Regions from separate parts of the Homo sapiens genome. Here region 2 is linked to region 1. Evidence: fine-mapped expression QTL. A gene starts in region 1. The other region holds a variant in brackets. All regions are shown on one strand. Distances are from middle to middle.

Region 1 (5,000 bases):
CCTCTGTGTGCTCACTCCTGGTGTCTCTTCCTCTTCTTTTAAGGACAACAGTTCAGGGTCCCACCCTTAGGACTCACGTAACTTTAATTACCTTCTTAGAGGCCCTATCCATAACACATAGGTTTAGAGGGTTTTTTTTGGAGACAGGGTCTTGCTCTGTCACCCAGGCTGGAGTGCAGTGGCGCGATCATAGTTCACTGTGGCCTCGAAGTGCTGTGTTCAAGTGATCTTCCCACCTTGGCCTCAGGTAGCTGGGACCACAGGCATGTGCCATCACACCCGGTTAATTTAAAAAAATTTTTTTTGGCCAGGCATGATGACTCACACCTGTAATCACAGCACTTTGGGAGGCCGAGGCAGGCAGATCACTTGAGGTCAGGAGTTTGAGACCAGCCTGGCCAACATGGCAAAACCCCATCTCTACTAAAAATACAAAATTAGCTGGGCATGGTGGCAAGTGCCTGTAATCCCAGTTACTCAGGAAGCTGAGGCAGGAGAATCGCTTGAACCTGGGAGGCGGAGGCTGCAGTGAGCTGAGATCACGCCGCTGAACTACAGCCTGGGCAACAGAGCGAGACCCTGTCTCCCGAGCTCAAAGGATCCTCCCTTTGGCCTCCCAAGGTGCTGGGTTCACAGGTGTGAGCACTGTGCCCGGCCCACACATGGGTTCCCATAGATCCCACTTTACAGGCAGGGACACTGAGGCATGCAGAGCCGGGATACAGACCAAGCAAGTCCTGGCTCCTCTTCTGGGTGTCCCAGCCCGTCTCGGACACCCACGCTTACCCAGGCCTGGTGGCTGCATCGTGGACATGGGGGCAAGGCAGCTCTCTGGGTGGGCAGAGGCAGGAGCTGAGGCAAGGATGTGGGCATCCTTTTGGGTACATCTAGTCCTAGAGCTGATCCAGGGGCCAGTCAAATGTGCAGCCAAAGTCGGGTCAACCCCAGCACTGTCCTGTGGGTGGGGGTAGCAGGGAGCCAACAGTCCAGGCCCTACATCCTGTTCTAATAGAGTGACAAGTCTGATGAGGCTGGGGGTGCACAAGCACTGAGAAGGCAGCAGGACAGGGAGCCAAACACATGGGGTGGTGGGGGAAACCAGGGAGCTGGACACAGGGTGGGGGGGTCCTGGGAGTTGGACACATGGGCCAGGTTGGGGGTCCAGGGAGCTAGACACAGGGGGTGGGGAGGGGAGTCCAGGGGACTAGACACAGAGTGGGGGGTGGGTCCAGGGGGCTAGACACACAGTGTGGGGGGTGGGTCCAGGGAGCCGGACATACACATGGGGTGGGGAGGGGGCATCCAGGGAACCAAGTCTAGGCAGAGGCAACTGGCGCAAAGGACCTGAGGCAGAAGAGGGTTTGGTGTGTGAGGCGGGACTGAGGACTGTGGGCGAGGGAGACAGCTCTACCAGGACGCATGGTTCGGGGAGGACAGGCTGCAGGGTGCCTGGGCTGCAGGCACGGCACGGAGAGGAGTGATCCAGTGTTAACAATGTGGGTGGAGGATGACACCAGACCCCTGGCTTATTGCCCCACCAGGGGAATTCCCAGACACCAAACACCCCCTCCACTCCCACGCAGAATTGCGGGCTGAGGGTTCGGGTGAGCCAGGCTGCTCTGTCCCGGGGCCGGGCTCTGTTCATCCATCCGCAGATGGATACGGACACGTGCCTTTTTCTGAGGATGTGAATGGTTGGGAATGGCTGTGCCTGAGGATGTTGTTCCCACAGGATGGTGGGGGCGACTTCGGGCCTCGGTGGGTCCCGACCCCCCTCCTTCCCCCAGTTCCCTAATCAGGGTCTGAGCGACCGCGCGCACGGCCCCTGGGCCCCGCCGGTCTCCGAGCCCGTGGGCAGCGCCGGGAACTCGTGCCCCGGTGGCCGCAGCCGACCCTTAGGCAGGACTTCGTGGCGCCCCCGGCCCGAACAGACCCCCACGGGCAGCCTCGGCCGCCCCGTGCTCCCTTCATCTCAGGGCAAAAGCTCAAGTCAACCCTTCGGGACCGCGAGCCGGGCGGCCTCAGGAAGCGGGCGCCTGGGGACCCTCGGCCGGGCCGGGGGCGGCGAAGGTGGGGGCGCCTCGCGCGGCGGAACCCGCCGTCCCCATAGCCCGGAGCCCCGTCCGGAGTCGCCCCGCTGACCGGTGAGGAGGCCGGGCTCCCTCCTTCGATCTGCGGCGGTGGTCGGGTCGGCCGGGGCGCCCCTCGGACCCGGGCGCAGCGCGGAACCCGGCGGGGCGGGAGGGGCCGGAACCTAGCGCCAGGGACCCCGTTTCCTGTCGGCGGGACCCGAGCGCTGCACCGAGCGCAGCCGGACGCGGCCGACTGACCCGGTCGCTGTGGCAACGCGGCGGGACCTGGCCAGCGCTGCTGGCGGGCGTTAGGGTGAGGTGCGGGCGGGCGGCGTGGGAGGCGTGGGAGGCGTGGGGGGCGCCGCTCCGACCACTCTTCCTGTAGAAAACCCCAGCAGCTGCCGTCCTGTCGGACGCAGCGCTTTGGTGGGGACCTGGAGCGCGAGGTCGACCCTCAGAGCTCGGCCAGGCCCGGACCGGGGATCCCCTCGCGGAGGCTGCGGCGGGGCGGGGCGGGGGTTGCGGCCGCGTGGAGCGGGAGCGTTCCCTCGGTCTCCCGTGGGTGACCTGGGGCGGTGGGCGCTGCCGACCAGGGCCCCGCAGCCCCGGGAGAATTCCCCGGGTTCCGCCGCCGGCAAGGACGGCTCCGCGCCCAGGCAGCCTTACAGTGTCTGTGAGTTTAAAAAAAAAAAAAAAAAAAGAGAGGAAAAAAAAAGGCCGGAGGCGGTGGTTCGCGCCTGTAATCCAGCACTTTGGGAGGCAGAGGCGGGCAGATTGCTTGAGGCCCGGAGTTCGAGACCAGCCTGGCCAACATGGTGAAACCCCCTCTCTACTAAAAATACAAAAATTATTGGGCGTGGTGGTGCACGCCTGTAATCCCAGCTACTCCGGAGGCTGAAGCAGGAGAATCGCTTGAACCCGATGTTGTAACTGAGGGAGTTATAGAGAGAACGCCACACTCTGAGACTACTCAGGAGTCCTGTATTGCCAGCGACTGACAGACTGCTAGAGCTGCAAATTCCCTCGGCCCCGAAGAAGGGGCTAGATTTCTTTTGATACCTTGGTCTAAATAGAGGAGGGGAGGCTAGCTGAAGCGATTTTTTTACAGAAGCAGAATAGGCAAAAAGTTAAAAGATAAATGGTTACAGAAACAGTTACAGGAAAATAAACAGTTCCAGGTACAGGGGCTTAAATTATCACAAAGTGATAAACGCAGGGGCTTTGGGTACCATCAACCGAGCGCGTTCCCAGGAGCTGCTGGTACAGCTTGCTCCAGTTTCTTATCAGTATTTTATCAGTAAGCGCATTCCTGGATGTGCTTGGAGTCAGCTTGCCCCAGTTATGTCCTTAAGGGACGGGGACAAGGGGCTGCAAGCGAAGAAACCAAAATGGTGTCTGTCCGGCCCTCTCAGCTAAGAGAGAGTCAGTCAGGTTAAAACAAAGTAGGGTACCACACCGAGAGGCGCAGGTTGCGGAGAGCCAAGATCGCGCCATTGCACTCCAGTCTGGGAGACAAGAGCGAAACTCGGTCTCAAAAAAAAAAAAAATTATCTGTAACTTAGAAAAAGGATACAAAAGGAGCACAGATTTCCCGTGTGCCTTTTGCCCAGAGCCCCTAGAATGCTGACCTCTTAGAGAACCACAGTTCATTCAGCAACATGTAGACGCTGGCGTTCATGTTGGTATCATCCCATGATCTGGTCTCCAGTATTTATTCTTGCTTAGCAGCTACCTCATGGATGACTTTACCGTGGTCCAGGATCCAATGATGAGTCCACTATTTTATAAAATGCCCCCCAGTTCGGGGGCATTTCTCTGATGTTTTGTCATAATTGATTTCATATTACTGATTTTTGGCAAGAAAACCTCAACAGGGAAATTGTGCCCTTCCCAGCGTCTTACGAGACACAGGATGCCCCTGGCTGTTGGTGCTAGTCACGTCCTGGGGGCTGAGGTGGTGTCTGCCAAGTGTGTCCATAAAGTTAGGGTCCTTCCCTTTGTAAATAATAAATATTTTGTGGGGAAATATCTTGCCACTATGTAAAAGATGATGTTTCTTTCTTTCTCTCTTTTTCTTTTTTTTTTTTCTTTTTTTTTTTTTTTTAAGACGGAGTCTCTCTTTGCCGCCCAGGCTGGAGTTCAGTGGCGCGATCTCGGCCCACTGCAACCTCTGCCTCCTGGGTTGAAGTGATTCTCCTGCCTCAGCCTCTCAAGTAGCTGGGATTACAGCCGCCCACCACCACCCCCAGCTAATCTGTGTATTTTTAGTAGAGACGAGGTTTCGTCATGTTGGCCAGGCTGGTCTCAAACTTCTGACCTCAGGTGATCCACCACCTTGGCCTCCCAAAGTGCTAGGATTACAGGTGTGAGCCACCGTGCCCGGCCTTTTTTTTTTTTTAATTAATTTTATTTTTTTGAGACTGAGTCTCTCTCTCTCTCGCCCAAGCTGGAGTGCAGTGGCTTGATCTCGGCTCACTGCAACCTCTGCCTCCCGGGTTCAAGTGATTGTCCTGCCTCAGCCTCCTGAGCAGCTGGGATTACCAGCGCCTGCCACCATGCCCGGCTATTTTTTTTTTTTTTGTATTTTTAGTAGAGACGGGGTTTCACCATGTTGGTCAGGCTGGTCTCGAACTGCTGACCCCAAGTGATCCGCCCGCCTTGGCCTCCGAAAGTGCTGGGATTACAGGCCTGAGCCACAACGCCCAGCAAGATCTTGTTTCTAACCATACTTCTGTCACTAATTTTAGCACCCATGAGTGTTTCCCCAAAATAACTGTTAATGTGCTATTTGTTAAATGATTTTTCTGTTTCCATTACTCCTACATTTATTAGTTGGGATTTTCCTATAAGAAAGAACCATCTCTTCCCAGGCTGGCTTGCAGGGGCGCGGTCTCGGTGTTAGTGCATCTTTTTATTCCATGGATTCTA
Region 2 (5,507 bases), 120 kb after region 1:
CTCTACGGCCTGCCCCGGCGGTCCGGCAAGCTGAAGGACCTGTCTAGGTTTGATGCCTCCTTCTTCGGAGTCCACCCCAAGCAGGCACACACGATGGACCCTCAGCTGCGGCTGCTGCTGGAAGTCACCTATGAAGCCATCGTGGACGGAGGTGGGTCGGGCATTCGCGACTGCTGCGCCGAGGGCTCCTGCTGCTCACGTGGAATAGGCAGTGTTTTCTCTTCTTGGTTCTGGTAGAACCAGGTGCTGGCACCACCTACCCTCCCCGGCTGTGCCCCTGGCCTGGCCAACGGGCTCAGGGAGGTGTGGGCCACGGGGTAGGCCGCAGTTTCCCAACTGCACCCCAGAGGTGTCGCGGGTGTGCCCTGACCTGAGCGTACCAGTCTCCTCGCTTCTGATGTCTGGCTGGTGCTGGGGCCGGGGCCGGGGCTGGAGTGACGAGAGGCAAAGCAGGAGGTTCTTGAGGGGCCCTCCAGGCCCCCACCCCCACCAGCCAAGCAGCGGACAGCACCGGCCCTGCTGTCTCTCCCCTCCCACCCTCCCCACTACCCTTGCCCACGTCCCCCCACCCCAGGCATTTCAACCCTCTCCCGCCAGCCTGGCCCTCGCTCTGACTGGCATTTGACCTCGGACAAGCGCCACGCCGTTTTTTTATTTTTATTTTTATTTATTTATTTATTTTTAAGACGGAGTCTCACTCTGTCACCAGGTTGGAGTGCAGTGGCGCGATCTCAGCTCACTGCAAGCTCTGCCTCCTGGGTTCACACCATTCTCCTGCCTCAGTCTCCTGAGTGGCCGGGACTACAGGCGCCCACCACCACGCCCGGCTAATTTTTGTATTTTTAGTAGAGATGGGGTTTCACCATGTTTGCCAGGATGGTCTCGATCTCTTGACCTCGTGATCCATCCATCTCAGCTTCCCAAAGTGCTGGGATTACAGGCATGAGCCACCACGCCCAGCCATGCCATTTCTTAAGATCCAGGTGCTCCCTCCCCGGGCGGAGAAGGACCTCCTGAGGGGGAGGCTGAGCCCTGGGCTGCCCTTGGGTGTGAGCGGTTCACACACCCACCCACCCTAGGGCAGAGCCAGCCCACCAGGGGCGAGGAGGGGCCCTGCTGGCCGAGAGGTGGAAGCCCTTCTCCTGCGCCCTTCCTGCTGCCAGACCCCACCCCAAGACTAAGGTTATGCTCCCCGGGGGTGACCGGTGTCCCTCTCTCCTTCCCGAGCCTGGACACTTGGCCTTTGTCTCCTCGGTTCCTTATCACGGCCTGTTCTGGTGCAGGCTGCCCTTGGCGCTGGAGAGGCCACTGGCCGACGGGCTCATCAGAGCTGCCGGTGACACCAGGGGCCAAAGGCGTCGCCTGGGGACAATGCTGCCCTCTGTCCTTCCTGGAGCCACTCTGGCCGTGCCTGGTGCCCTCCCCTGGGCCCGCCTGCCCCCTCCGCCTCGTTCCCTCTGTGACCTGGTTCCTGTTCCAGGCCTCACCTGGGCTGGCTGCTGGCCACAGGCTCTGTTCTGGCCCCTCTGCAGGACACCTCACCCTCCTTAGGCCCCTTCCAGGGTCCCACTGGGATGGACCCCCCCTCACCCCAAGCCAGTGAGGCCAAGATGGGACCTTCGCCCCAGAGCCGGGTGGGTGGGTGGGCTGGCTGCGCTGTGGGGCCCGGCCGTGGCACCTTGACCACTGTTTGTGGCAGGCATCAACCCAGATTCACTCCGAGGAACACACACTGGCGTCTGGGTGGGCGTGAGCGGCTCTGAGACCTCGGAGGCCCTGAGCCGAGACCCCGAGACACTCGTGGGCTACAGCATGGTGGGCTGCCAGCGAGCGATGATGGCCAACCGGCTCTCCTTCTTCTTCGACTTCAGAGGTGGGTCCTGCCCAGCCTCCTGCGGAGGTGGGTGGCCTTCAGGTCCCCACATGCTGAGCAGAAACCACGTGGCGTGGGCTCACTCCGTGCAGTGTGTGTCCAGCCTGGTGGCAGGAGGTGTGCTCAGGGGTCTCGTGTGCTCACAGCCCCACCTGAGCCGCAGCACCCTTCCTTGCAGGGCCCAGCATCGCACTGGACACAGCCTGCTCCTCCAGCCTGATGGCCCTGCAGAACGCCTACCAGGCCATCCACAGCGGGCAGTGCCCTGCCGCCATCGTGGGGGGCATCAA[T/C]GTCCTGCTGAAGCCCAACACCTCCGTGCAGTTCTTGAGGCTGGGGATGCTCAGCCCCGAGGGCACCTGCAAGGCCTTCGACACAGCGGGTGAGTGTGCGGCTGCGCGGCCAGGGCAGGCGGGACAGTGGCACAGGACGGCCCCCCGCACAGTCCCCACGCTGAGCAGGATCCTGCCAGCTCCGGGGATCCCCCACCCAAGCACCCACCCCACACCCCAGAGCTCCTCCTGGTGGGGTGGGGGCCGGCGTGGGGCTGAGCCCCGGGCCTGAGGTGCTGCTCTACCCAGGGAATGGGTACTGCCGCTCGGAGGGTGTGGTGGCCGTCCTGCTGACCAAGAAGTCCCTGGCCCGGCGGGTGTACGCCACCATCCTGAACGCCGGCACCAATACAGATGGCTTCAAGGAGCAAGGTGGGCTCTGCCGGGGTTCCGGGGTGCTGGGGGGCAGGTGGGAGCCGGGGCTGGGGCTGCAGCACTGAGCCGAGCCCTCCGCAGGCGTGACCTTCCCCTCAGGGGATATCCAGGAGCAGCTCATCCGCTCGTTGTACCAGTCGGCCGGAGTGGCCCCTGAGTCATTTGAATACATCGAAGCCCACGGCACAGGCACCAAGGTGATGCCCCCCCCCCCCGCCCCACTCACCACCCCATGAGCCTAACCTACGCCCATGCCTGGAGAGGTGACCTGGCCAGAGCCCCTCACCCCCCATGTTTCCCACAGGTGGGCGACCCCCAGGAGCTGAATGGCATCACCCGAGCCCTGTGCGCCACCCGCCAGGAGCCGCTGCTCATCGGCTCCACCAAGTCCAACATGGGGCACCCGGAGCCAGCCTCGGGGCTGGCAGCCCTGGCCAAGGTAGGTGGGGCTGGGCTTGGGGGTCCCTCAGGCTCCTGCTCCCTGGGACTGGGTTGCGCCATGGCTGGGCACTGCTGCTTTCTCTTTGCCAAGTGGAGGCGGGGGCTTCCCCACCAGGAGCCTCTGTCCCCCGGGCTATGCTGCAGGTCTGAGCAGAGGCACTGAGGCTGACAGCAGGGAGAGCTCGTAGCCAGGCTCGCTGGGCCTTCCCTGGAGGCCTGATGCCCTGCAGAGCGTCTGCCGGACACGGAGCCGAGCTGGAGGAGCCGCTTGGGTGGGAAGAGCGAGGCAGGAGCAGGCCTGGGGGGGTCCACGGCACCATCAGGGTCTCCCGTGTCGCCCACCCGTCCCTACAGCTTCCTGACCCACTAGCAGAGGCCTGGGGACCTTTAGAGAGACCAGGCACAGGAGCCCCAACACCCATGATCACTCACGCCCTCTGCCCCCCAACTTCTGCAGCCTCTGAGATGCAACATCTGGGCCAAGGGGGCCTTAGTGTTCAGGCCACAGCCAGGCTTTGGTGGGTCCACATCAGGCTGGGAGGCAGCAAGGCCGGAAGGGGAGGTCTTGGACCAAGCTGAGGGCAGGGCCATGGCGGCTCAGTCCTCGGACCCCTGTGCCATGGCAGAATTAGGTTGGGGACAGGAAGTGCATCGGAGAGGGCCCTGGAACCCTGGCCCCACATGAGAGTCTCGGGGAGGTGCCTGCCCCCAGCTCAGGCAGTGGTAGAGGGAGTGGGGCGGCTGCCCATCCACCACGTACCCCCGCAGGTGCTGCTGTCCCTGGAGCACGGGCTCTGGGCCCCCAACCTGCACTTCCATAGCCCCAACCCTGAGATCCCAGCGCTGTTGGATGGGCGGCTGCAGGTGGTGGACCAGCCCCTGCCCGTCCGTGGCGGCAACGTGGGCATCAACTCCTTTGGCTTCGGGGGCTCCAACGTGCACATCATCCTGAGGCCCAACACGCAGCCGCCCCCCGCACCCGCCCCACATGCCACCCTGCCCCGTCTGCTGCGGGCCAGCGGACGCACCCCTGAGGCCGTGCAGAAGCTGCTGGAGCAGGGCCTCCGGCACAGCCAGGACCTGGCTTTCCTGAGCATGCTGAACGACATCGCGGCTGTCCCCGCCACCGCCATGCCCTTCCGTGGCTACGCTGTGCTGGGTGGTGAGCGCGGTGGCCCAGAGGTGCAGCAGGTGCCCGCTGGCGAGCGCCCGCTCTGGTTCATCTGCTCTGGTGAGCCCACACTCTGCCCCCAAGGTGGTCCCTTCCCTGGGGAAAGGCAGGCGAACTGGAGCTGGTGGTCCCCTGAGGTGCTCTCTGGGACGGGGATGGGCACACAGTGGCACGGGATGGGGCTGAGCCTCGTGACGTGCTCTCTGGGACAGGGATGGGCACACAGTGGCGCGGGATGGGGCTGAGCCTCATGCGCCTGGACCGCTTCCGAGATTCCATCCTACGCTCCGATGAGGCTGTGAAGCCATTCGGCCTGAAGGTGTCACAGCTGCTGCTGAGCACAGACGAGAGCACCTTTGATGACATCGTCCATTCGTTTGTGAGCCTGACTGCCATCCAGGTAGGGCCCAGCCTGCCAGCGTGTGAGCAACGCCAGCCCCAGGGCTCTGGCTTTCCCTGGAGCCCAGGAGCTGCAGTGTTGAGTCCGGGGCCCCTGACAGCCCCTTTGCTAGGCAGAGCCTTGTGCTGGGGGCAGGACGGGAGGGGAGGAGGGGTCTCAGTGGGGCTGTGTGGGGGCCATAGGGGCTTCTTTCCTATCAGGAGACCTGGGAGGGTCGATGGGGCGCGGGGGTGGAGATGGCCTAGTGGGGCCGGGGGCCGCCCCCAACAGCTGCACCTGCTGGAGGTTGCAACCTGAGTGTCCTGTTCCCACCCCAGATAGGCCTCATAGACCTGCTGAGCTGCATGGGGCTGAGGCCAGATGGCATCGTCGGCCACTCCCTGGGGGAGGTGGCCTGTGGCTACGCCGACGGCTGCCTGTCCCAGGAGGAGGCCGTCCTCGCTGCCTACTGGAGGGGACAGTGCATCAAAGAAGCCCATCTCCCGCCGGGCGCCATGGCAGCCGTGGGTAGGTCTCCCGGAGGGGCCCCCAGCACCTCCAAGAAAGGAGGCTGCCTTCTCGCTGTGGGGTCCTCACCTGCAGCCCTGGCCTGGCCCCCGTAGGATAGAGTGGCCCCCGCTGGCCCGGGGACACCCAGCTCGGACACAGCCGTGCGCGAGTCCCCTGCAGCTGCCCCACTGGCCCCACACCTGGCAGCCTTGGGCCTAGGCACGTGTCCATGGGCATCAGGCCTGCGTGGAGCCCCCGTGTGATGAGCACACAGCTGCAGCATAGCAAGAACCCAGGGGCTCTGGTGAAGCCAACACACGGGTCATCAGGGTTCCCTCAGACTGGTGCCCTCTGTTGGCACCCATCTCTGAGCCCCATGGGCCACATGTGGGCAGGACCTGGAAAGAACCTTGGCTGCAGAGGACTGAG

Evidence for each region.
Region 2: its variant is fine-mapped to the expression of CCDC57 in thyroid (GTEx, PIP 0.95).

What each region holds. Positions count from the first base shown.
Region 1 is chr17:82,210,170-82,215,169 of GRCh38, reverse strand. It overlaps CCDC57 (coiled-coil domain containing 57), which reads left to right and starts at 2,328. Exons shown (of 19, transcript NM_001394669.1): 1 at 2,328-2,385. RefSeq lists enhancers at 1-57, 975-1,917 and a silencer at 1,868-2,787.
Region 2 is chr17:82,089,964-82,095,470 of GRCh38, reverse strand. FASN (fatty acid synthase) reads left to right here. Exons shown (of 43, transcript NM_004104.5): 3 at 1-151; 4 at 1,700-1,873; 5 at 2,052-2,252; 6 at 2,452-2,574; 7 at 2,659-2,774; 8 at 2,882-3,016; 9 at 3,787-4,249; 10 at 4,402-4,589; 11 at 4,907-5,096. It overlaps SNORD134 (small nucleolar RNA, C/D box 134), which reads left to right and starts at 5,331; the gene lies at 5,331-5,507. The variant T/C (reference allele first, on the strand shown) is at 2,164.